Homo sapiens: one gene and its partners. The protein of the gene in region 3 interacts with the protein of the main gene of each other region in a pairwise test. Each region holds a gene or a part of one and is shown on either strand. Other genes may lie near its edges.

Region 1 (8,040 bases), on a different chromosome or scaffold from region 3:
TTCCCTCCTACCCCAGGCCCCTTCCCGCCAGAGGGCGCCCCTGGAGTCGGTGGAGAAGGTAGGGGCTCTAAATACAAAAATTCAAGACGAGTTGAATCTTGGCTTGAACTGCGTGACAGGAAAATAGGCAAGTTTGGAGACCACAGGTGTTAACTTCTAGTGGGGCTTGACCCGACAGAGGAGCAGATTCTTCAACACCAAAGGCCTAAGGGCCGGACTCTCTTCGCGGACTCTGGCCCTCATAGACGCGCCCTCGCCTCCCATACCCTCCGTAGAGCATGCCTGTGAGGGAAAGGGAGAAGCAGAAGCCGCGCTCGGATGACTTGGCGCCCCACCCCCCAGCCTGCCCACAGGCCACGAATTGAGAAAAGCTTTCCCAAAAGGAAAGTCCTCTCAAAGGCCCTAGACGGTCAAATCGGGAAAGGGAGCAGTAGAGGGATCCTTCCTCCCGCTGCGTCTGTGAAAGCCGCCTGTCTGCACGCCCCGGGCTCCCGCGGTCCCTCCCGAGGATTTCGGTTCTGGTGCCTGAGAAAGCAGCGCAGAGGGGGCCCTGCGAGACCCCTCCAGAGAAATCATCCCCCGGAGGCATTCCTCGGATCTTGGGGTTGCGGAGCAGCGCCCCCCAGCGCCCAGTTACACTCCTGCCTTCCGCTCCCTGCGCCTGGTTGCCTCGATGGCACTCGCGAGCCCAGCTCAGCCCGGCTTAGAAGCCTGTGCCTAGCTGTGGGAGACTGCGGGAGCAACTGAGGGGCCCAAGTGTTTCTTGTTGAAGGTCAGAGGCCTAGAGTCACAGTTTCTCTAAATCCAAAATACAGAATCAGAAGGAATAACTCCTTCTATTAGCGACTTTTGTGATCTACAAACTCAGGCACATGATCTCATCCTGAATTGTTTGGATCCCTAGCACAAACCAAGCCAGTACACAGGGCAGGTTGTGACCATTTTTTACAGCTCAGGAAACAGGTGCTCGGAGGCTGTGTTTCCTCAGCGTTTCTCGAGGCACTGGGGGGTTCAAAGATAGATAAAACAGGGGCTCACCCTCAAGGAGGGAAGCCAGAAAACACACACTGGTTTACTCTGGCTGTGATGGGAGTGACTCCAGGGTGTGGCGGGAGCCCACAAGAGCGGTACTGCACAGCTGGAAAAAGGCAAAGCCAGGGTTCAAACCTAGGACGGACTTCCACTCAAGGACTCCTCTCACGACCTTGGAATGCTGAGAGATCAAGAAATGGTGCAAAAACCCACACACGAATCTCCATTACAACCCTCTCTATCTCACTGGATCCTAGAGTAACATCTGTCAGAAAGTAACTACATATTATTTGGGTGATTTATTGTGAATGTGTAAGTTCCGTGTGAGTAGGAGCTGCATCTAGATTAAGTTTGAATTTTCAGGCCTTGCGTAGTCCCTGGCACAGAGCCCTAGCTGAATAAATACTGTCGAGTGAATCAAAAATTGCGATAAAACTTGGAGCAAAATAACACTACCAGGAGACAGAGTGGCTCAGCGCCCTAAACAGGTGTGGAGGACCACAAAGGGAGTTAGAAAAAGCAGTTGGGGGGTGGGGCGGTGAGACAGGTGGTTCCTCCTCACAGTTCCACCTGGTCCAAGCTACAGACCCCAAATTAGCCTTCTTTTGTATGAGCCCTCTGTTCTTGTCTCGCAAAGTGACACTGGAGGGAGAGAAAGGAGTTTCCCTGCGGCCACGCTGGTGTAAGCAAAGGCTGATGGCGATTCCGCGCATCTAGGGCCGAGCCTGGGCCTGCGCCCCCTCGGATTCCTGGCGGAGCCGCAGCCAGCGAAGCAGAGCGTGGTCGGAATAGAGGCAGCGACCGTGTGAGGTCGCGCCAGGGAAAGCTCCGCGAGGGGCCAGCGTTGGGCCCTGCCCTGCCCTGACCGCTCCCCACTGTGCCCACTCCACCCGGGAGCAAGCTAGTTGCGGGATAAAGGAATACGCGCAGACTTCGCAAAGTGCAATCGGGGTTCTTCGTATTCATGGAAAAAAAAATCACTGGTTTAGCCCGGGTCTGCCCTATTTAGGATGAGTCCAGGAGGCGGCGGAAAGAAAGGACGCTCTTCGGTCAGAGGGAGGTGTTTCGGGCCATGGGAGGGACTCTGGAGGCCTTTGCTTGGATAAGCTTGGAGATACAGATGTCCTTCTCTTCCCTACAAGGTGCGTTAGTCTCCGGGCTTATTTTCGGCAGTGCAGTGGTACTGGGGAAGAAGGCAGAGCCGCGTGTTGAGAAGGGGCTAGGGTAGTAGAGGCGCTGGAGCCTGGGCGGCAGGGCGCTGCAAAGGCCCAGGCGAGGTGGATAGAGAGCTTGCTGGTGCGCGCGAGAAGCACGCCTGCAGGCAGAGGTTGAAGCGCCGTCCCAGTTGTGTCCCAGAGTGAAGCGGGAGTCTTTGCCCGCCCCAGCCACTTCGAGCTCCACTCCAGTTCAGCTCCCAGAGTCGCCACTTGCTGCGCGGTTGTTGGGGAGGGGGTTCCTGGTCCAGAACGAGACGTGGGGGGCTGGGGGTTTCCTCGAGAACTGCAGGCCTGGTTGCCCCCGGACTGTCAGAGCCGGAGGCCGGGGAGCTGCCAGCCACGTGCGCCTGTGGCCTGCTGAGAGGTTGAAAAGCTGCCAAGGGACGAAGGCCGAGAAGACAGGACCTAGGGGCTGTGGAAGATTCACCCAACTCTTCCTTTTACTCAGGTCTTGGGACCTAAGAGGGGGTGGGGATAGTCATGATAATAACTACCGCAATCTCCAGTGCTGGCACTGAGCTGAAAAACATTCAAAGCTTTCAAAGCATTTTGATGTGCTTCATCTTACTTGAATCTCACAAAAACCTTGTGAAGATTGATCTCCATTTCTAAATGGCGTTGAGACTGGAAGAGATGTACAACATTCTACACTTGGTGTTCCTTAAACTTACAAACAACTATGAAATAATGGCGAGTGAGAGAAAGAAGCTGGGTGACTGGGAAACCCACCCCGCCTTCGCAATTAGACCCCATTCGGGACTCAGGCCCGGCCAGGTCGCGCCTGCAGACAAGGTCTGTATTCAGCGTTGCCAGTTCTCCTCTGTGGTTCGCTTAAGCCCGGCGTCGCCTCCCCTCCTTGCTTAGCCACCACAGTGATCAATGCTCAGTTCGTCGGGGCCTGAGAGCGCCCCCCAGAGAAGCCCCTGGGAAGGAAGGGCAAGGAGCCGGGCTTCGCTCTGGTCTTTCGCAACACCAGCGGCGAGCGCGTCTCCCTGCGCAAACGTAGGGTGGCCTCCCCAGCTCTGCCGTGGGGACCGCACAAAAACGCGGGCGCAGGTGGGAGGGCGGAGGGTGTCCTGAGCTTTCTTTACCCTGGTAAAGAAGGTAGGCGGTGAGAAAAGCGAATGTTATTATAGAAGTTGGCTTTGTATTGAGGGAGTAAGAGCTCTCTTCAAGGAGAGGGCTGAAATCTTTAAAAATAAATAAAACTTTCTCTACTGTAATTGCTATTAATAAAAAAAGGGAGCCCGGATGAATTAAGTAGCTCAAAACTGCCTGTTCGTCATGATCAGGAGCTCCTTCTCTACAAGGAGGGGAAAGAAAATGTGAAAACAAAAACTAAATTCAAGAAGCTCCTTGACCAGCGCGGGTGTCTTGGAGGCACCTGCCGGGGCCGGCCGGGGAGCGCTCCGCCCTCCCAGCCCCTGGCGCGCAGAGGAGACTAAAACAGCTAAGGAGAAAGCAAAACAAAAACAATGATAAAAACGTTTAAAATCCAAGGACAAAAACCGGAGTCGGTCTCAAAATCCGCGCCGTTCAGTGCTCCACTCGGTAGTCGACTCGGCTGCAGGCCCCGGCCTGGCCGGAGCAACGCGGGGGACACCCCCGATTCCGCTGGGGAGCGCAGCCCACAGCTCCCCCTCGCCAGGCGCCCAAGGACCCTCAAGGCGCGGGGCCCACACTTGAAGCCTGGGAACGCGCAGACAGGAAACCCTCTTCCTCCTAAGCAGTTTCTTGCTCGTCGGATGAGAGGCGCCCAATTGAAGCAGAATGATCCTCATCTACTAATATCCAGCGTGGCCACAAAGCGACTGGCCATTTACGCCACCACTTTAAACAAAGATATTTGGTTATTCCCGGGAAGCAAGAGCACTTTTGCATGGCTGAGCTGCGGGCGGAGGCGAGCCTCGGCCCAGCCTCCCGCCCGCTGAGCTGCCCGCACCTCGGCATTCGCCCCCTCCTGGCCAGCGCTCCAGCCGCCGGGGTTCAGGCTCAGTTCCGCCCGGCAACAGACAGACGGGCACTCACGCCGCTCCCTGCTCGCGCGCTCCCTGAAGCATCAGAGGGGAAAACAGCGTGGCTCTGGGCTCGGGTGCTGGGGCTGTGATGTCCTCGGAAAGTCAGCTCCAGCCCCAGATCCCCGCGTGTCTGGGAGATGGGCGAGGGTCAGGGACACCAGGTTTGTTCGAGGTGGGGCAACTTCAGTGACGGACCCTCCCGTGAGACCCCTTCCCATCCTCCCAGCTCTGGGGGCCAGTGCTGTGTTTGCTCGGCCGGGGGTGGGGGGGGGGGGGGAAGACCTTGGGGGAGGCGTGTTAGCGGGGGTGGCCCACTGAAAAACCCCTGAGCTGCGGGGGCGGGTTGTGGCTCGGGGATCCGGGACAGCCTCCGGGAGGCAGTCGATCCCCTACTCAGCGCCCCCTCCGCCCGCTCGGATTCTCTCCGGTAGGGGGAAAGGGGGCGGGGAGCAGAGGTGTCCCTCTGACGGCGGCAGAAGAGAGGCAGACAGACTGACAGACACGTAGACCAACAGTGCGGCCCCAGGGTTCGTCCCCAGACTCGCTCGCTCATTTGTTGGCGACTGGGGCTCAGCGCAGCGAAGCCCGATGTGGTCCGGAGGCAGTGGGAAGGCGCGGGGCTGGGAGGCCGCGGCGGGAGGGAGGAGCAGCCCCGGCAGGCTCAGGTGAAACCCCCACCCTGTCCCTCAGCCCCCTCCTCCTAAAGACCTGTCCGTGCCCGGGGAACCCCGACCGAATTGGAAAGTGGTTCCACTTTGTAACTCCGCAAGTTGGTTGCAAAGCAGCATTCACCTTCCTTCCTCTCAACCATCTCTCCTCCTCTGTTACTCCCCCACCCCACCTCCTGCCCTCCCCGCTCTCGGTTCCCTCCTCCTTCCCCTCCCCTCCACCTCCTCCCCGCGCTCCGCTGGTACCCCACAAAAAATGGGGGTGGGGGTGTCCAAGGGAGGGGGGAAATGCTTTGGGTCTCGTCTCTGCCTCTCTCTCTCTCTCTTTGAGACCTAAAAATCCTGACAAGTGAAACTTAAAGGTGTTTACCTTGTCATCAGCATGTAAGCTAATTATCTCGGGCAAGATGTAGGCTTCTATTGTCTTGTTGCTTTAGCGCTTACGCCCCGCCTCTGGTGGCTGCCTAAAACCTGGCGCCGGGCTAAAACAAACGCGAGGCAGCCCCCGAGCCTCCACTCAAGCCAATTAAGGAGGACTCGGTCCACTCCGTTACGTGTACATCCAACAAGATCGGCGTTAAGGTAACACCAGAATATTTGGCAAAGGGAGAAAAAAAAAGCAGCGAGGCTTCGCCTTCCCCCTCTCCCTTTTTTTTCCTCCTCTTCCTTCCTCCTCCAGCCGCCGCCGAATCATGTCGATGAGTCCAAAGCACACGACTCCGTTCTCAGTGTCTGACATCTTGAGTCCCCTGGAGGAAAGCTACAAGAAAGTGGGCATGGAGGGCGGCGGCCTCGGGGCTCCGCTGGCGGCGTACAGGCAGGGCCAGGCGGCACCGCCAACAGCGGCCATGCAGCAGCACGCCGTGGGGCACCACGGCGCCGTCACCGCCGCCTACCACATGACGGCGGCGGGGGTGCCCCAGCTCTCGCACTCCGCCGTGGGGGGCTACTGCAACGGCAACCTGGGCAACATGAGCGAGCTGCCGCCGTACCAGGACACCATGAGGAACAGCGCCTCTGGCCCCGGATGGTACGGCGCCAACCCAGACCCGCGCTTCCCCGCCAGTAAGTGAGGCCGCCCCACTGCGGGGCCGCGGGCTGAGCTCAGGAGGTGCGGCGAGAGCCGTCCAGAAGGCGCGGCGCCGGCAGGCTGCGCGCTGGGCATCAGGGAGGGCGGCCCGGCAGCGGCGCCAGGGACTTGGGTGCGGGAGCTGGGGATGCTTCCCCCTGCTCGGCTGGGGGTCCAAGAACAGGCACTTGGTAGCGCTGGGGTCCTGCGGTCAGATGCGGGTACTCGGCGTCTCCTAGGCGCGGTGGACTGGCAGCTCTGCTCGGCGCAGAAGACCTCGGGGAGCCAAGGGAAGCGACCCCGAGCTCAAGGAGCAGGGGCGAGCAGAGCGCGGAGAGGCTAGACCGGGCCAGGAGGGAGGCTGCCCTGTTGGGAGGCACTCGAGCGCCCGGCCCGGCCCTCTCTCCAGCGGAGTCTGGGCAGGTGGGAGGACTCGCAGTTCCAGAGGGGACTCTAAGGGTCCGAGCAGGTGCCCTCACTGGGGCCTGACAGGAGAGAAGCCAAGAGGCAAAGCGTCTGGGGGCTCCAGCTTTTGGAAGTCAACACCCCCTCTCCTAACCTCTCCAAACTGGGGTCTACCGTAGGACCCCAGCTCCCGGCCTGAGCCCAGTTCGCCGCCTGTGGCCAGCTAATCCTAATGCTCTGACCCGGGCTGGGCACGAAAGGAGCAGAAGCGGCCTTTCCCCCACTGCGTCTTTTGGTTCGAAAGAGGGAACTGAGACTGAGGGAGGGCAGCCAGGGTTGGGGCTGTGAGCGCTCCAGTACAGCCCCCTCGACGGTACGGCCTGGGGCAGGCGCTGGCAGTTCCCCGCGGATGGGCCTCTTGGGCCCCAGCGCTAGGCTGCCTGGGTCAGGAGGGCGCCGTCGGTTGGGGCGGGCCGGGCGGGCCAATGGCGCGGAAAACAGGGGTGGCCTGGCTCGGCCTGGCCCCGGCCGACGCTGTGCGTTTGTCGCTTACAGTCTCCCGCTTCATGGGCCCGGCGAGCGGCATGAACATGAGCGGCATGGGCGGCCTGGGCTCGCTGGGGGACGTGAGCAAGAACATGGCCCCGCTGCCAAGCGCGCCGCGCAGGAAGCGCCGGGTGCTCTTCTCGCAGGCGCAGGTGTACGAGCTGGAGCGACGCTTCAAGCAACAGAAGTACCTGTCGGCGCCGGAGCGCGAGCACCTGGCCAGCATGATCCACCTGACGCCCACGCAGGTCAAGATCTGGTTCCAGAACCACCGCTACAAAATGAAGCGCCAGGCCAAGGACAAGGCGGCGCAGCAGCAACTGCAGCAGGACAGCGGCGGCGGCGGGGGCGGCGGGGGCACCGGGTGCCCGCAGCAGCAACAGGCTCAGCAGCAGTCGCCGCGACGCGTGGCGGTGCCGGTCCTGGTGAAAGACGGCAAACCGTGCCAGGCGGGTGCCCCCGCGCCGGGCGCCGCCAGCCTACAAGGCCACGCGCAGCAGCAGGCGCAGCACCAGGCGCAGGCCGCGCAGGCGGCGGCAGCGGCCATCTCCGTGGGCAGCGGTGGCGCCGGCCTTGGCGCACACCCGGGCCACCAGCCAGGCAGCGCAGGCCAGTCTCCGGACCTGGCGCACCACGCCGCCAGCCCCGCGGCGCTGCAGGGCCAGGTATCCAGCCTGTCCCACCTGAACTCCTCGGGCTCGGACTACGGCACCATGTCCTGCTCCACCTTGCTATACGGTCGGACCTGGTGAGAGGACGCCGGGCCGGCCCTAGCCCAGCGCTCTGCCTCACCGCTTCCCTCCTGCCCGCCACACAGACCACCATCCACCGCTGCTCCACGCGCTTCGACTTTTCTTAACAACCTGGCCGCGTTTAGACCAAGGAACAAAAAAACCACAAAGGCCAAACTGCTGGACGTCTTTCTTTTTTTCCCCCCCTAAAATTTGTGGGTTTTTTTTTTTAAAAAAAGAAAATGAAAAACAACCAAGCGCATCCAATCTCAAGGAATCTTTAAGCAGAGAAGGGCATAAAACAGCTTTGGGGTGTCTTTTTTTGGTGATTCAAATGGGTTTTCCACGCTAGGG
Region 2 (7,241 bases), on a different chromosome or scaffold from region 3:
CAAGGGTTCCCATGATCAGAGTAGAGGAGGAGGATGCAGCCTTCTGCTCCTCAGCTGTGGGAATCTGCACATCCATAAGCCCTGGTGCCTCTCCTTGGGCCTGAAGGCCTTCCTCAGCCTTGTAGCGCTGACTCTTCTGCCCAAGAAGCATGATGACTCAGGTCAGGGCAGCAGGAGAGTGTGGGCCGGAGCTGGGCAATTGAGACCCACAGGCCTGGGGAGAGAGGAAGCGTGTGAGAGGCCTCAGCTGGGTACTACACCCTGGATGCCCTAACAAAGGTCTACTTACAGGTCTTCTTCAGTGCTTCTCTGGGGCCTCCTGACCTCCTGGCTGGCCTGTTCTCTGCGAACCTGAAGGAGAAATTGAGAGGGCATCTCAGGGTGCAGCCTCCTGGCAAAGGCCAAGGCTCCAGGACTGACAAAAGGGCTGGTAGGGCCAGGAACTGTGGGGTTCCTGCTGTTCTGATGCCAGAGGGGCCTCTGGTATACATACAGGGGAAACACCACCTCAGCTTGACTGCTACTACTGCCTGGGCCTCTTATGCTCTGTGATTGAAGATACTGCCTCAGACCAAGACCTCACAGCCTGGTTCCTGGAGCTCCTAGAAGATAAATCGAGGGGAACTCAGGCTGCAGACTGCAAGCACAGCCCCAGCACCCCAGTGCTGTCAGGAGGGTGAGCCTGACTCTGTGAGCTCCCCACTATTTTGTGTGGATGGTCCTTTCTGTGCTCATTCAGGGCCCTCATCTTTCTCCTGGCAGGGCCTGGATCTGGCCCTTTTGCTGGCCTGAGAAACTTTCAGATCAAGAGTTTATATCCCTGATATGGAAGACAAGGATATGAAGGGACCCACATCTGGCCCCACATGCCCAAGGCCTCCTGGGAAAAAAGCAATAGCTACACAAAATGCAATGGGGCCCACGTGTCCTGTCCTAGGGTGAGAAAAAAGCAATAGCTACACAAAATACATTGGGGCCCATGTGTCCTGGGCTGACCTGAGGCCACTTCCTTAATCCAAGGACCTATCTCCAGGAGACACTGGAAGAGCAAATGAGGGGATTCCATCCACCCACCTTTCCCTGCACTTCCCATGGCTGACAGAAGGTGCAGGGTGGGGTTCGGTCCTGTGTGTTTGGTGAGTGGTGTCCTCTGAGTCCCTGACTCCTGGCAGGGCCTTGGACCCCCGCTCTGCTGACCTGAATGCAGTGCCCTCAGACCAAGGCCTTCTTCTCCCTGAGACCAATGAGTCTGGTATAACACAGGGGCCTCAGCTGATAGTCCTGCTCATGCTCTCAGGGGTGACAAAAGAGGCCGGGCAGATTTCTGTTGGGCCCCCATCTGTTTTTTGCCTGCTAGGAGAACCATCGAGGGTACCCTCAATCTTCCCTCAGTGTTGTCACCTAGACTCTTGGTAGATTCTTGGACCACTGAGTCTGTTGCCCACATGGGGGTCCCTGTTTTGTCCTGAGTTGCCCTCTGAGAACAAGGTCCTCACTTCCCTGAGATCTCAAGAGAGAAATGAGGAGCCACCACATCTGATGACCACTGGGTGGGGTGTCCAGGGGTGACACTAGGATCTGTCCCTACTTGTTCTTGAGTGGTGGGTTCTAAGGTCTTCAGGGGGTTATTCATCTTTCCCCTGATGGAGCCCGCCCTTCCTCAACCCACAACACCCTGATATGAGCAGACATCTCCCCTTACCACCAAGACCTTATCTTCCTGCGTTTCCCCAACTTCCTGCCCACAGTACAGATGAGATCTCCACTTAGGGCCACCCTTGATCGGGTTCCCCCAGAGATAATAACCAAAGTTAGCCAGACTTTGTGGGGTCCCTTCTTTCCAGGCCAGGAGTACCCCCATTCATCACAAAGTGAGCACATCTTGGGTCCTGCAGATCCTGTGACCCCGTCCCTCTGTTGAACAGGTGTGGCTCCCTCTGCTGAGCTGAGGACGCCCTTCAGACCCAGGTTGCTACCTCCCTGAGACCCAGGAGGCAGAAGTAAGGAGGCACTACATGGACAACCCTGCATGGGATTCCCACGGCTGACAGAAGTAGTAGGTTTCATGGGGTCTTTCTCTGTCTGGGTGTCATCCAGGTATTCATATTTACTCCACGACAAGGCATGGCCCTTTCCTTCCTGCTGAACCGTGGATGTGTCTTGCATGCCAAGGCCACCATCTCCTTGAGGCCCCCTACCAGAAAGTGGGGGGGCCACATCCCTTCCCCACTGTCCTGCCTTGGGTGCCCAGACCTGAGAGTGGGAGCAGGTTTCCTAGGCCATGATGGGAGGTCTGCTGAGTCCTCCTTAAGGGCTCTGGGGCACCTCTCTCCAGTGATCTGAGACTCCACTCCTCAGACCACAGCTGTCTCCTTTCTGACACCCTGAAAATGCAGCAAGGATGCGCCACATGCAGCCACAGATCCTGGGACTTCCCAAGGCTGAGATCTCCACTGATCTGGAGTCCAAGGACCCCTGAGTCCTCCCTCTTCTTCTTCTCCTTGACTCCTGGCAGGGCTGTTCACCACCCCCCTGCTGACTTGAGTTTCAGTCCCTCGGATTCCTGAGGCCAAATGTGGAGGCCCCTCAGTCTCAGACAGGTAGGGTGGGCCCCCTGTCCTGGGGTCCTGGGTCCCCTCGGGCCTCCTCATCTCCCAGCATAGCCTGGGCCCTCCCTCTGCTCCTCTTGAGTCCGTGCTCATGAAGCCCCTTTGCTGCATCAGCCCCGGATGCGGACGTCAGAATCAGCGAGCCCGGCCGCCATGCCCGGCCGCCATGCCCGGCCGCCATGCCCGGCCGCCATGCCCGGCCGCCATGCCCGGCCGCCATGCCTAGGGCTTCCCAGGGCTGACAGTAGGGGCAGAGATGTGCTCTGTGGAGCCTCAGCCCTCCCTCAGGGTCCTGCCCTTGATGCCTGGCAGAACCTGGGCCCTGCCCTCTGCTAACCAGCCCTGCTCTGGTCACACCAAGCTCTCACTCCAGATTCCCCTGGGGCTTAAGCGCAGGGCTGGCGAGGGGTGGCCCAGCCAGACAAGTCTGCCCCCTGGTGGTCCAGGGCTGGCAGCAGGGGCGGCGCTAGATTATTTTGGGTCCTATATGAGGGGTGGGGGCCTCCTCAGTCCTCCCTCAGGGTCTCACCTTGCCTCCTCACAGACCCTGAGCCCGCTTCCCTCAGCCGATCTCAAGCCGACCCCTCAGAACCAGGCCCTCGCTTCTCTCTGATCCCCGCGGCCACGTCAGTGGCGTCACATCCGTCCACCCAGGGCTCACCTGGGTGGACAACAGGGGCGGAACCGGATTCTAGTGGGGCGGGGGATGAGGGAGGAGCGGTTCAGTCATCCCTCAAGGTTCTCACTTTGAGATCTGGCAGAGCCTGGAGCTCCGTACTCTGCTGATGGTGTCTGCTTCCCTCAGACCAAGGTTCTGATTCCGAGTCCCCTGAGGTGGCAGTGGGGGGAAGGGTGTGGTGGGGGGACAAGGCTGCTGGGGTCTTTCAGGGCTGACATGAGGGTCTGAGCTGAATTATGTGGCCCCTCTATGTGGTGTGGGTGGACCCTCAGTCCTCACTCAGGAGGGTCCTCTTCTTGACTCTTGGCTCTTTTAGGAGATACTCTGTTTCTGTCACCTCTGAGCATTTGCACAGCTGCACCCCTTGCAGAGAATGGCTGCGGGTCCCAGGCCAGATTCTCCCTGTGGGTTTGCAGCACCTAAGATTGTAGTGACCTCTGGGAGAAGAGGCACACCTTCCCACGGGGGCTCTTCCCCAGCTAGAAGAGGATTTTGCAAAACTTTTGTACTAAATGATTTATTTTTACACTGAAGAAACTGAGTAGCTGCAATAAATTTGTGGAAGTCCTGAGTTTTGAAGTTACCTAACAATTCCTATTCCACTTTAGTGATTTTCATAATTTAATTCGCATTCGTATAGTAAGAAACGAATTTTAAATCTATGCCAATTGTATATGTGCATTATATTTATGTTTATATGCATAAACACATATGTATGTATATGTTTATATTATATATGTGTAATTATATGAATGTATGTGTATATATCTTTACATATATTTATACATATATGTATGTCGACTATACGTACTTATTTTATCAAACAATATCTACTCATACAATGTGTGATTCACTCATACTATTCTATTTCTAGTTCATTATATATATTTGATTAAAATAATAGTATTTTGGAAGGTAGTCCTAACCTACTCTTTGTTTCTAGTTGTTATTAGCAGAATTCTGGAGCCATGGTGTCTCAATCAATCCAATTTTCCTGGTGTCCTGATATTACCCCTGGGCTACTGGCTTCGTGTTTTGAGGTGCAGACTCGGATCCTACATTGATGTGGGGTGGTCCTTTAAAACTTTTCCTGCAACTCACCCTGTCGTCTGCAGTGGCTGCAGACCTCCTCAACCTCCCTGCCTCTCCAACTGCCCAGAACACAAGTACCAGTTCAACACAGTTTTTTCCCCAGGGTTTTCTATGTTTTGTTGTTTAGACTTTGTTGCTGATATTGTTGTTTTATTTTTCTTTTTCCCTTCTATATTTTTACACAGTTGATTTTGGGAGTAGAGCACAGCAGCCTGGGCTTGATTGTCACTTTGGCAGCTACAGGTAGGCATTAACTGTTTATTTAATTTAAGTAAGATTTACACCTTTGCTGTATTCTATTCCTCATCAGTGAACATCATATACTACTCCATTTATTTGGGAATTTTTTCTCTGAATCTGTCAGCAAACTTGTACAGTTGCTTCTGTAAATGTCTTGCATATTTTGGTTAGGCTTCTTCTTCTTTATATTTTGGATTTAAATGCTGTTGGGGATGGTATATTTTTCATTTTATGTTCTAAGTTGCTCATCTGTGACAAGTCTCTTGTATTCGCTGCAGTGGTCTTTGTATGCTGTCTTCTGAAGTCTCTTATTCATTTGAATGTTCCATGTGTCTCTTCCTTTGAATTTTCTTGATGGTCATATTGTGAAAAATATGATCTATTTCTTTTCAATCTTCATACCTCTTTTTCATCTTGATATCCATAGCTCTCTTTTTCATTTCAGCATTCACTGCAGCTGTGAACGGTAGCAGTGAAAGCATACATCAATGACTTGCTCCTGACGAGAATGGGAATGCTTCTAACATTTCACATTCAAGTATGTTTCCTGTCAGTTTTAGAAAATTAAAGTGCCTTTTAATCTTCATTTGCTAAAAATGTTAATTTGAAAATATGATAAAATTCATTTCAGAGGCTTTTTCTGTATTTTTATTCCTTGCATACGAGCTGCTTGTTCATTAGTCCACTGTTGTGTTGAATATACAATTATCTATTTAGGACATTTGCTGCAATATGAGTGAACACTTGGCTCATATGTTCTTTTTATAAAGGCTGGATGTCTTTATCTTTTTTTCCCCCCCAATGCAGGAGAAGGAGCCTTGGAGAATTCGTTGAATAATTGCCCGTATTTTGGGATTATTTGGAAGAGTTAATATGGTGATTCGTTTTCCCTGACCACTTGGGGGAACTGACCCACAAAACTGCCTGCCTTAGAACGGTAGAGGGTGGATTGAGCTTTAAATACATTTTCAGTTTGTGGACGTACCATTGGTTTTATCCATTCACCAATTGGAAAAAGTATTGATTGTCAATTTCAAATAAGCTGCTATATATGTTTTTGTGTACGTGATTTTGTGTGTATGAACCTGTTTCCAATTTTCCTTGATAAAACCTAGGAGTACAATTGCTGTGTGTAATGGTAAGTCTAAGTTTTGCTATATTAGAAATAGCCAAAGCCCCTTCTAGAGTGAATGTGTTCTTTTTCTTCTCTACCAGCAATGAAAGAGAATGCCACATCTTTTGTACAATTTGGTATTTTCAGGTTGTTGCATTGTATCAATTGTAACAGGTGGGTAGAAGAATGTTACTGCTGTTTACATTTGTATTTTTATTGAATAATTATGGTAATCATCTTTTCATATGCTTTTTTGTGATCTGTGTATCTTCATTGGTGAAGTCTTGAAATCATTTACTATTTTATTGGACTCTTCATTTTTATGTGGTTGCATGTTATAAGGTGTTTATTCATTCAGTATATGAATCCTTTATCCGACACGGGGTTTACAAGTATTTTCTCCCCATTTTTGGCTTTTTTCCCCATTCCTTTAAGTGTTTTTTTTTTTTTAGTAAACATTTTAGAGTAATTTTAAATTTACAGAAAAGTTGCGAAGACAGTTAAGAGGGTTTTCCTATACATCATGTCCAGTTTCTCCTATTATTAACATCATGCAATAATATGATACATTCTTCATAATTCATAAATCAATATTCACCTGCACATTCCTGTCATTGTTTGAGGATCCCATCTAGGATACCATGCTACTTTAGTCTAAGCTGTGATAGTTTCTCAGACTATTCTTGTTTTTGATGACTTTAACAGTTTTGGGGAGTATCGATCAGGCTATTTGTGGAATTACCCTCATTTGGTATTTGTCTGAGTTTTTTCATATATAGACTTGAGTAATGGCTTTGGGGTAGGAGACCAGAGAGGCGAAATGCCATTCTCATTACACGATATTTTAGCAACATGACTCATCGCTGTTGATGTTGACTGATGAACTGGCTGAGGTAGTGTTGTCAGGATTTCCCTCTGCAAGGTTATTACATTCCCCCCTTTCTGTATTGTGCTTTATAAAAGAAAGTCACTAAGGGCAGCCATTGGGTAGTAGGGAAGTATGGTCCACCTTCTTGGGAAGGGGTAGTATTGACATGAATGATTTGGGATTCTTCTCAATGGGAGATTTGTTTATTCTCCCCCATTATTTGTATTTATTTAACCTTCAATTTGTCTCGGCTGAACTCATGGTAATTTATTATATGTTTGGGGTTATAATTCAACACCACTTTTATTTTGCTGCTCAGATTGTTCCATCTTTGTCCATTGGAAGCTCTTTCAGTTGGCTCTGATGTCCCCTTCACGTAACTGAGCCATTACATTTGTTTGTAGCTCTGTCTTACTTTATGGTATGACAAGATGATGCAGGCTCATTTTTATATTTCCTGTTCCAGTCATAGAAGAGTCAATTTTCCATGGTTTCTGCTTCCTTTTATGGGAGAAGAGTATTGGAATGTGAGAGGTGGGTGCTTGGCATGCTCATTGTTCCTGAGGATTTGTTATTCCTAGCCACCTCAATTCTCAGAGTAAAGATATATATTTTGGTATATTAACCTGTGTATATACA
Region 3 (8,234 bases):
TAACTTTACTTTCCTCTATCATTCAACTTTTCACTATACTCTGTAACTACAATATAATATTTTAATAGCTACTAATCACTAGCGACTTTGGACTAGTGACTAGTGACTGCCTAGTCCACAAATCCAGAGACCTGTCCTCAGTCCTATTCACCTTCAACTTTATAGTACAGTAGCACACCCCTTATCCATGGTTTCCCTGTTCCACGGTTTCAGTTACCTGCAGTCAACAGAGGTCCAAAAATATTAAATTGAAAAATTCCAGAAATAAACAATTCATATGTTTTAAATTGTACACCACACTGAGTGTTTGCTTTAAGTGAAAAGGTAAAAGTTCTTGACTTAATAAGGAAGGAAAAAAAATCGTATGTTGAAGTTGCTAAGATCTATGGTTTTAAAAAAAATCTTCTATACATCAAATTGTGAAGGAAAAATAAATTCATGCTAGTTTTGCTGTCATACTTCAAACTGCAAAAGTTATGGCCACAGTACGTGATTTAAGATGGAAAAGGCATTAAATTCCCAAGTAAAAGACATTAACAGAAATACATTCCAATTGACAGAAACTGGGTTTGGTACCATTTGCAGTTTCAGGGCATCCACTGGGGGTCTTGGAACATCTTCCAAACAGATAACGGGGGACCACAATATTTGATAGCTGACTAATCCCTCACAACTTTTCTCTGTGGACTGAGCTGTCACTGTATTTCTCTTTCTCCAGTCCTGAAAAGCTTAACTTCCTCAATGACAATATTTTCCCTGTTTCCACCCCAAAATAAACCGTAATCTTTAAAAGCATGATTTTTTACCTTCCTTTCTCATGATTTAAACTTCCTTACTTCAATTATCAGAGAATAACTCAAATCTACATTTCTACTGCTAATCTTTTCCCTGAACTTTATACTGATTATTTAACAATATAATGATCAAGCCTACCAAAAGTAGTAAACTTTTTGTGTCTCTGCCTTCATCCCCAATTACATTTTTACCCCCCGTGGTCCCATTTCCTGTTATTTTTAGCGCAAATAGCTCACGACTTTAAAAGATACGGTTTTAATGAAGTAAAAAATTATGCTCCCAAGTTAATACCCAGCTTCTTGCAATTTTAGATTTTAGCATTGTTTTTTAACTTTAAGTATGCAGCGATAGTTTTTTATAAGTTAACTCTTATAAAACCAAAGCGTCACGGAGCTGTGCATTTGCAATTGCAACCCATTTCTGGTCCTCTGCAGAAAATCCAGATTAATAGTAGTAGCTAACGCTCAAGAGCACTAACCACGTACCATATATACCCTTTAAGATCCTCATATACATTAACTCGCTGAGTCTTCACAACAATGTCATGAAACACCTTAGGAACACCTGAGTTTATGTGAGTAATCCATTCTGGAGCTGTGCAACATGGCAGCTCTGAAGTATATATTCATTACAGTATTATCTTTCCCAATTTAAAGAGGACATAGTGTTATTTTTCCCATTTTAAAGAAGAGGTCACTGGGGCACTAACATGTTGAGTCTGGCTCTAGAACCCATACTGTTAATGACTAAAATTATAACACCTCTCAGAAGTTATTTTTCAAAAATATAGTCATAACATATGGTCCAATCAAGTTACCACCTGTACTTGAGAGGAAGAAACCCAAATTCCAGAGCTCTTAATTCCCATTACGTTACTTTGTCAATTAGGCTAAACCAGCCTAATTCAGTTATTGAAGCTAAAAATAGAGCCTCCATGAAAATGTTTCCCTAATTAAACCGTGACTTCTAAAATGTGTTAAATAAGAAAAAATACAATTCCTATATAAATTATCCTATAGTACTTTTAAATAATAAAACAACACTTAAAGGATTTCAAATGAAGAAAATACATACTTTACTGTTTTAATACATTGTTCTTCTGGCTGAGGCTGGTCAAAGCTACACTGATCTTCAAATAAAGGCTCGTCAATGCTACACTGTTCTTCAAGCAACGGCTGGTGAACTTGTTCTGACAAAGGATGGTCGACTTTTCTTGCTTGCTTCCTATGTCTTTCCTCTTCAGCTAAATAGAGATGTTTCAGATTATCTGGGTATCGATCTGTGAATTGAGATTCCAGTGACGTTTGAGCCTTCTTTTCCTTCCGTAGCAATTTCTTGTAACTTTGCTGTATTTTCAGTTTTCTTCGAAAAGCAAAGCCTTGTCCTACATTGAGGAATATCATCCAAAATTACTTTCAGAGAAAAGAAGTTGAACGAAGAATGGAGCTGTTAATTACAAATGAAAACTTTTTTTACGTCATCACATTCAGATTCTAGTATTATATTTTGCTTTAAAAAATTATTTCAAGCAACAAATTTAAGCTGATGGATTGCATAGTAAGTTGGCCCTTTGCAAAAAGACCAGGCTAACAGTCATGCGGAAATCCAAGTAAGAATCTCAAAGAAAAACTGACCAGTTCAGACTGTTGCACAACTTGAGTTTACAGCTGTATTCACAAATCAAAACAAATTCCTTAGTTCATCTAAAACACTTAATCTGAGCCTTCAATAAATGCTTAAAAAATAGGAAAGAAAATGCCACATCTAGTATCTTGGACAAACTACATGTTTTCGAAAATGTTTCAACACGAAAGAAAAAGACAGTGTATGGTTGTCTGAAAAGCTAGCAATTATCGGAAGACTGAATTTAACATTTATATATTCCAAGTGGGATCTAAGAGACCTTACAGACAGCAATACAAAATGACAAACACAAATTAAAGCGAAGGCTGGAGGGCCTCGGGTATTTGTAATAAGGAAGAATTCGGAGCAGTGTTTCTGGCCCTGTCCTCCTCTCTATCCTTTACCTTACCACATGCGCAAGAGTTCACAGGGTCATAGACTCTCTCTGCTCAGTTTCTCAGGAAAAATATAGGAAAAAAGTTCTGATGAAATACAGGGTTACGTCAGAAAAGACGTTTAAATAATAGCAACACTGCTCCGTCTTCCTATCTAGAGCTCTGCGAAGCTCACAGCTTTAGCGGGCTCAGGAATGAATTCCCTTGCCCCAAGTAGGACCGGGTCTGGTTCCTAAATCCTTCTTCCAAGCTTCAGCGAATCTTATATCCTAAAACTTAGCAAGCCTGAGGATTTGCAAATGGTTGCCTTCTTACATACCCTCGCGAACGCTCCCCACGAAGGCTTGCGGGTGGTTAGGCCGCCATGTCTTCTGTCTCACATTCTTATTCCTGTACCCGACAGTGGAAACCCCTTCACCACGCGCCTCAATACCACCAGGCCGCCACTTCGCGGACCGCCTCACCGGCGCCATTGCAGCCGACTAACTGCGTCATCAGAAGACCACGACGGACGCCCACAAAATACGTCACCAAGCCGAAGCAATCAATCGCTCAGAAGGAATCCGGCTCGGAGCTCTACTGAGCCTGCCTGTGCTAATTTGGGCCGAGCTGGCGCCTCACGGCCATGTTTGCGCCACCTACAGCCTCGGAGGGTGAGCGTCATGGCGGCTTCTTGCCCTCTCCCGGTGACCCCGGACCTGCCCACGCTGCGTGCCAAGTTGCAGGGACTGCTGCAGTTCCTGAGGGATGCCCTGTCCATTTCCAATGCACATACCGTGGATTTCTACACAGAATCCGTGTGGGAGGAGCTGGTCGACTTGCCACCGGAGACAGTGCTGGCTGCGCTGAGGAAGTCAGCGTCGGAGACGGAGGCCCTGCCCTCAGAGACGCGCCCCCTAGTGGAAGCAGAGTGGGAAGCAGGTGGGTGGTGGGGTAGGCGGGGCGGGAAGGGAGGCGGAGGAGAAGGTCCCGGCAGACGAAGCGAGCCCCCTGGTGGAAGCCAGCAGAACCAGGTGCGTGGCGGCGGAGGCGGGGCGGCCCGCTGGGAAACCGAGGAGGGGTCGGATTAGTTGAGGGGTGGGGTGGGGATGTTCTTTGGAATCAGGATCACTCTTTCTTTGGGTGCTTGTGTATGTCCACAATTTAAAGAAAGCAGGAAACAGGGCAGGGGAGTTCCTTCATCTAGTAATTCCATAATAATTGACGCTAGGGAAACTAGGGGAGCAGTGCTCTCACAGGTTTTATAAATGCCAGCATGTGGTGGAAGATTACTCAACAGTTAATAAAGATAATTTCAAGTGGTGGTAATGAAGTAGAAAATAAAAACAGTGTAATGTGGTAGGGATTGTGTAAGGAGGCTGCCTCAATTTAGGAGGTCAGGAACATGAGAAGGCACTAGCTGCAGAGCCACAGGGAGGGGTTGCAGGCGGTGGGAACCGCAGGCTAGGCTTGGCTCTAGCCAGGTGAGGGGCTGCAGGTGCAGGACGGGAGGCAAGCAGAGGCCAGATGGCACAGGCCTTTCTAGGCCTTGGAAGGATTTTGGATTTTAAGTGTGACGGAAACCCTTGGGATTATTTAGGCAACATAGTGACCTAATTCACATTTGAAAAGATAACTGTGAATTATTTGAAGAATAGACTAGGGCAAAAGCTGAAGCTGAGAGGCCAGTTAGGAGACTACCTCAGTAGTACAACAGATGATTGTATCTTGGACTAGGATGGTATTCGGATAGTCACTATTTCATTTAAAAACTATTTTAAAGTACCTAATATGTGTCTTGAATTTTTGTAGGCTCAAGCTTTTCCTACCCTCAAGAAATGTAGATTCTTCTCAGGCAAGCATATTTTGGAAGTAGAATGATGGACACCAACAGGCTTCTGGGATTTTTACTTTCCTTCTAGACTTCCCAAAGTTACCCTTACTAGTGAACTTTATTCATTGAGCATTCTCTGAATGCAAAGCATCACTAGAGGGACCTCTTATAATAGCACTTGGTAAATACTGTTGTTGTTTTTTTAAGTAATTGTTATTGAAAAGTTAGGCACTTCTTCAGTTTGCTCTCATAATAAATATATGGCACTTATGATATGACAATTTTACTTAAACTCCAAAAGAGCAGAGTCTTTGTCTGACTTGTCAACTGATGTATTCCCAGCACTTGGTAAAATACTTGGCATACATTAGATACTGGATGAATATTTGTTGAATGGAGGAATTAATGAGTTACTCATGTTAGTTTTAAATAAATAAAATGAAACTACTCTCAAGTTTAGAGTGTAAGACTTTAATACGTGTTTAGCCTGGTCTCCAGACAATGGTAGAGTCAGATTGTCTTACATATTCTAATAATAATTGGATTATTTGATATTTACTATATACCCTGTAGTGTGCTAAGTGTCTTCATGTGTATTTTCTCTTTTAATCTTTACATCAGCCTTGCAAGATAGGTTCTGTTATTGTCGATTTGTGGAATTATAACTTGAGGAGTTAATTTGCAAGGGATATAGCTGATAATGGAAGATTCTCAAACCTGGGTCATCTGATTTGAAACTTTTTTAGTGCTGTAAGAAAAAAAGTATACTAGATAAGGGAGGAGTAAGTAAGGGGAAGAAGAGGAAAATGTTTGCATTTTTAAGTAAGTTGTCCTGGCAAGACCTCACTGAGGTGACTCTAACGCTGAAAAGATAAGAAAAAAACCGAGCCATGAAGATCTCTGGAGGGAAAGCAGTCCATTTAGTGACAACAGGAAACAGAAATGCCCTGACGAGGGAGCCTACAAGGTATGTTTAAGGAGCTGTAAGGAGACTGAAATAGATTTCCACTAGGGACTCACAAGGAGTATGGTCTTGTGTCCGGAATTGTTAGGTTCTTGGTCTCACTGACTTCAAGAATGAAGCCACAGACCCTCTCAGTGAGTATTATAGTTCTTAAAGGCGGCGTGTCCAGAGTTTGTTCCTTCTGATGTTTGGATGTGTTCGGAGTTTCTTCCTTCTGGCGGGTTCGTGGTCTCGCTGGCTTCAGGAGTGAAGCTGCAGACCTTTGCGGTGAGTGTTACAGCTCACAAACGCAGTGTGGACCCAAAGAGAGAGCAGCAGCAAGATTTATCACAAGGAGTGAAAGAACAAAGCTTCCACAGGGTTGTCGCTGCTGGCGCCAGCAGTCTGCTTTTATTCTCTTATCTGACCCCACCCACATCCTGCCGATTGGTCCATTTTACAGAGAGCTGATTGGTCCATTTTGACAGGGTGCTGATTGGTGCATTTACAATCCCTGAGCTAGACATGAAAGTTCTCCTAGTCCCCACTAGATCAGCTATACACAGAGCACTGATTGGTGCATTTACAAACCTTGAGCTAGACACAGGGTGCTGATTGGTGTATTTACAATCCCTTAGCTAGACATAAAGTTTATCCAAGTCCCCACTAGACTCAGGAGCCCAGCTGGCTTCACCTAGTGGATCCCACGTTGGGGCTGCAGGTGGAGCTGCCCACCAGTCCCATGCCGTGCGCCCGCACTCCTCAGCCCTTGGGCGGTCGATGGGACCAGGCACTGTGAAGCAGGAGGCGGTGCTCGTTGGGGAGGCTTGGGCTACGCAGGAGCCCACGGTGGGGGGGAGGGGGACTCAGGCATGGCGGGCTGCAGGTCTTGAGCCCTGCCCCGCAGGGAGGCAGCTGAGGCCCGGTGAGAATTCAAGAGCAGCGCTGGTGGGCCGGCACTGCTGGGGGACTTGGTGCATCCTCCGCAGCTGCTGTCCTGGGTGCTAAGCTCCTCACTGCCTGGGGCCAGCGGTGCTGGCCGGCTGCTCTGAGTGCTGGGCCTGCCAAGCCCACAACCACCCGGAACTCGCGCTGGCCAGCAAGCGTGGCGCGCAGCCCTGGTTCCCACCCGTGCCTCTCCCTCCACACCTCCCTGCAAGCTGAGAGAGCCAGCTCCAGCCTCGGCCAGCCTAGAGAAGGGCTCCCACAGTGCAGTGGTGGGCTGAAGGACTCCTCAAGCGTGGCCAGAGTGGGCGCCAAGGCTGAGGAGGCGCCAAGAGCGAGTGAGGGCTGCCGGCACGCTGTCACCTCTCAGTCTTCTGCTGATATTTTGTGAGGAGTTACAAGTAAACATAATTCCCAGAGCGCAATGCACAGTTTGGAAAAGCACACTAACAGATGTTCGGCACAATCATTTGGTGTTTTATGGAACAAAGTTTTTTCTAAAAGTCCTCAGTGTGTCCATTTCAGTAGGTTTCATGTGCCAGGTGATCTTCTTGTCTCATTAGAGTCCTAAGAGTTTCTTCTTCATTGTTCGTCTAAAAAGAACTAGAATAAAATATTTAATTCTCTAAAATAAAAAGCAAATATGTTAGAAATAACTATCTTTTCAGTGCATAAATTATGGCTTTCCAGACAGACTTCCTGGGGTCAAATATTGACTCCAGCACTTAGTAGCTGTGCTAACTTGGGCAATTTACTTCAACTCGTTGTACATTAGTTCCTCATCTGTAAAATGGGGGTAACTTTAGTACCTGCCTGATGGGATACTGTGAAAGGTAATTCAGCTAATATATAGAAAGGGATATCTTTCACGTGAAGTGAACAGCAGGTGCCCAAGCTGGAGCACGCTTGGTGCATTTTAAACACAGCTGAGCAGTCTTGGTGAGACCGGTGAGAGATGGCATTTGGAGGTAGCCCAGGACATCCTCACATAAAACTTGTAGGCTGTACTCAGTATTTGGCTTTTATTCTGAGTGAAATGCGAAGCTCTTTGAGAATTTTGTGTGGTGATGTGATACCGTGTGATTTATGTTTCAAATCACCTGGTTTCTGTGTGGAGAAGAGAAGGTAAGAAAGGTGAAGGAAATTAAGGGAAGAAACAGGAATACAATATAAGAGGCTATTAAAATAGTCCAGGGACATTTCAAGGAACAGTAGCTTGAAGAGGTCAGATTCCCCTGCAGATAACAATGATGAAAACTGGCCAGATTATTAAAAACAACTGTAAGATTCTGGAAAATGCCAAAGGCAGAAATATAAGAAGAGGTTACTATTGAAAGACTGTGATTGATTGGGTAGGAAGTCAGAGTTTATGGCTTTCTTGCTAGAGATGCTCCTAGCCCCTGTAGATCTAGCAGTGGAATACCACATCCTTACCAGGTCAAGGTGGTGATGGCAAAATTCAGAGATCGGAGCAGGTGCAAATTTAAGACGTACATTCTGGAAACAGGAGATACAAAAGGTCTGAGATCTAAGATCTGAGTATAAACGCTGCCTGAATCCCCAAATGATCTCTTAACTCCACATGCCTGGGAGACCTAGAGATCCTAGCAGAAACACTGGCAAAAAACTTTTGAGAGGCAGAGCTTCCCCTGGCTAGAGATCCCACAAGTTTGCTGCACCTTCAACAGAGTGTATTTCCTAAAGTACATACAACTTGGGT

What was found.
Region 1: the proteins of CCDC59 (region 3) and NKX2-1 interact in binary tests that used the Homo sapiens proteins (3 or more experiments, as listed by UniProt).
Region 2: the proteins of CCDC59 (region 3) and MAGEA8 interact in binary tests that used the Homo sapiens proteins (3 or more experiments, as listed by UniProt).

Annotation. Positions count from the first base shown.
Region 1 is NC_000014.9:36,516,945-36,524,984, reverse strand, and holds the start of NKX2-1 (homeobox protein Nkx-2.1), read left to right. Parts: upstream 1-4,752; 5' UTR 4,753-4,855; coding exon 4,856-4,932; intron 4,933-5,305; exon of another isoform or gene 5,306-5,614; coding exon 5,615-6,000; intron 6,001-6,964; coding exon 6,965-7,707; 3' UTR 7,708-8,040. UniProt on the Homo sapiens protein: Transcription factor that binds and activates the promoter of thyroid specific genes such as thyroglobulin, thyroperoxidase, and thyrotropin receptor. Crucial in the maintenance of the thyroid differentiation phenotype.
Region 2 is NC_000023.11:149,877,183-149,884,423, reverse strand, and holds the start of MAGEA8 (melanoma-associated antigen 8), read right to left. Parts: upstream 3,242-7,241; 5' UTR 3,139-3,241; intron 2,057-3,138; exon of another isoform or gene 1,926-2,056; intron 1,354-1,925; exon of another isoform or gene 1,075-1,353; intron 603-1,074; exon of another isoform or gene 352-602; 5' UTR 290-351; intron 215-289; 5' UTR 152-214; coding exon 1-151. UniProt on the Homo sapiens protein: Not known, though may play a role in embryonal development and tumor transformation or aspects of tumor progression.
Region 3 is NC_000012.12:82,355,091-82,363,324, forward strand, and holds the start of CCDC59 (thyroid transcription factor 1-associated protein 26), read right to left. Parts: upstream 3,298-8,234; 5' UTR 3,287-3,297; coding exon 3,133-3,286; intron 2,180-3,132; coding exon 1,870-2,179; intron 1-1,869. Other genes in the region: METTL25 (probable methyltransferase-like protein 25), read left to right, coding at 3,476-3,734. UniProt on the Homo sapiens protein: Component of the transcription complexes of the pulmonary surfactant-associated protein-B (SFTPB) and -C (SFTPC). Enhances homeobox protein Nkx-2.1-activated SFTPB and SFTPC promoter activities.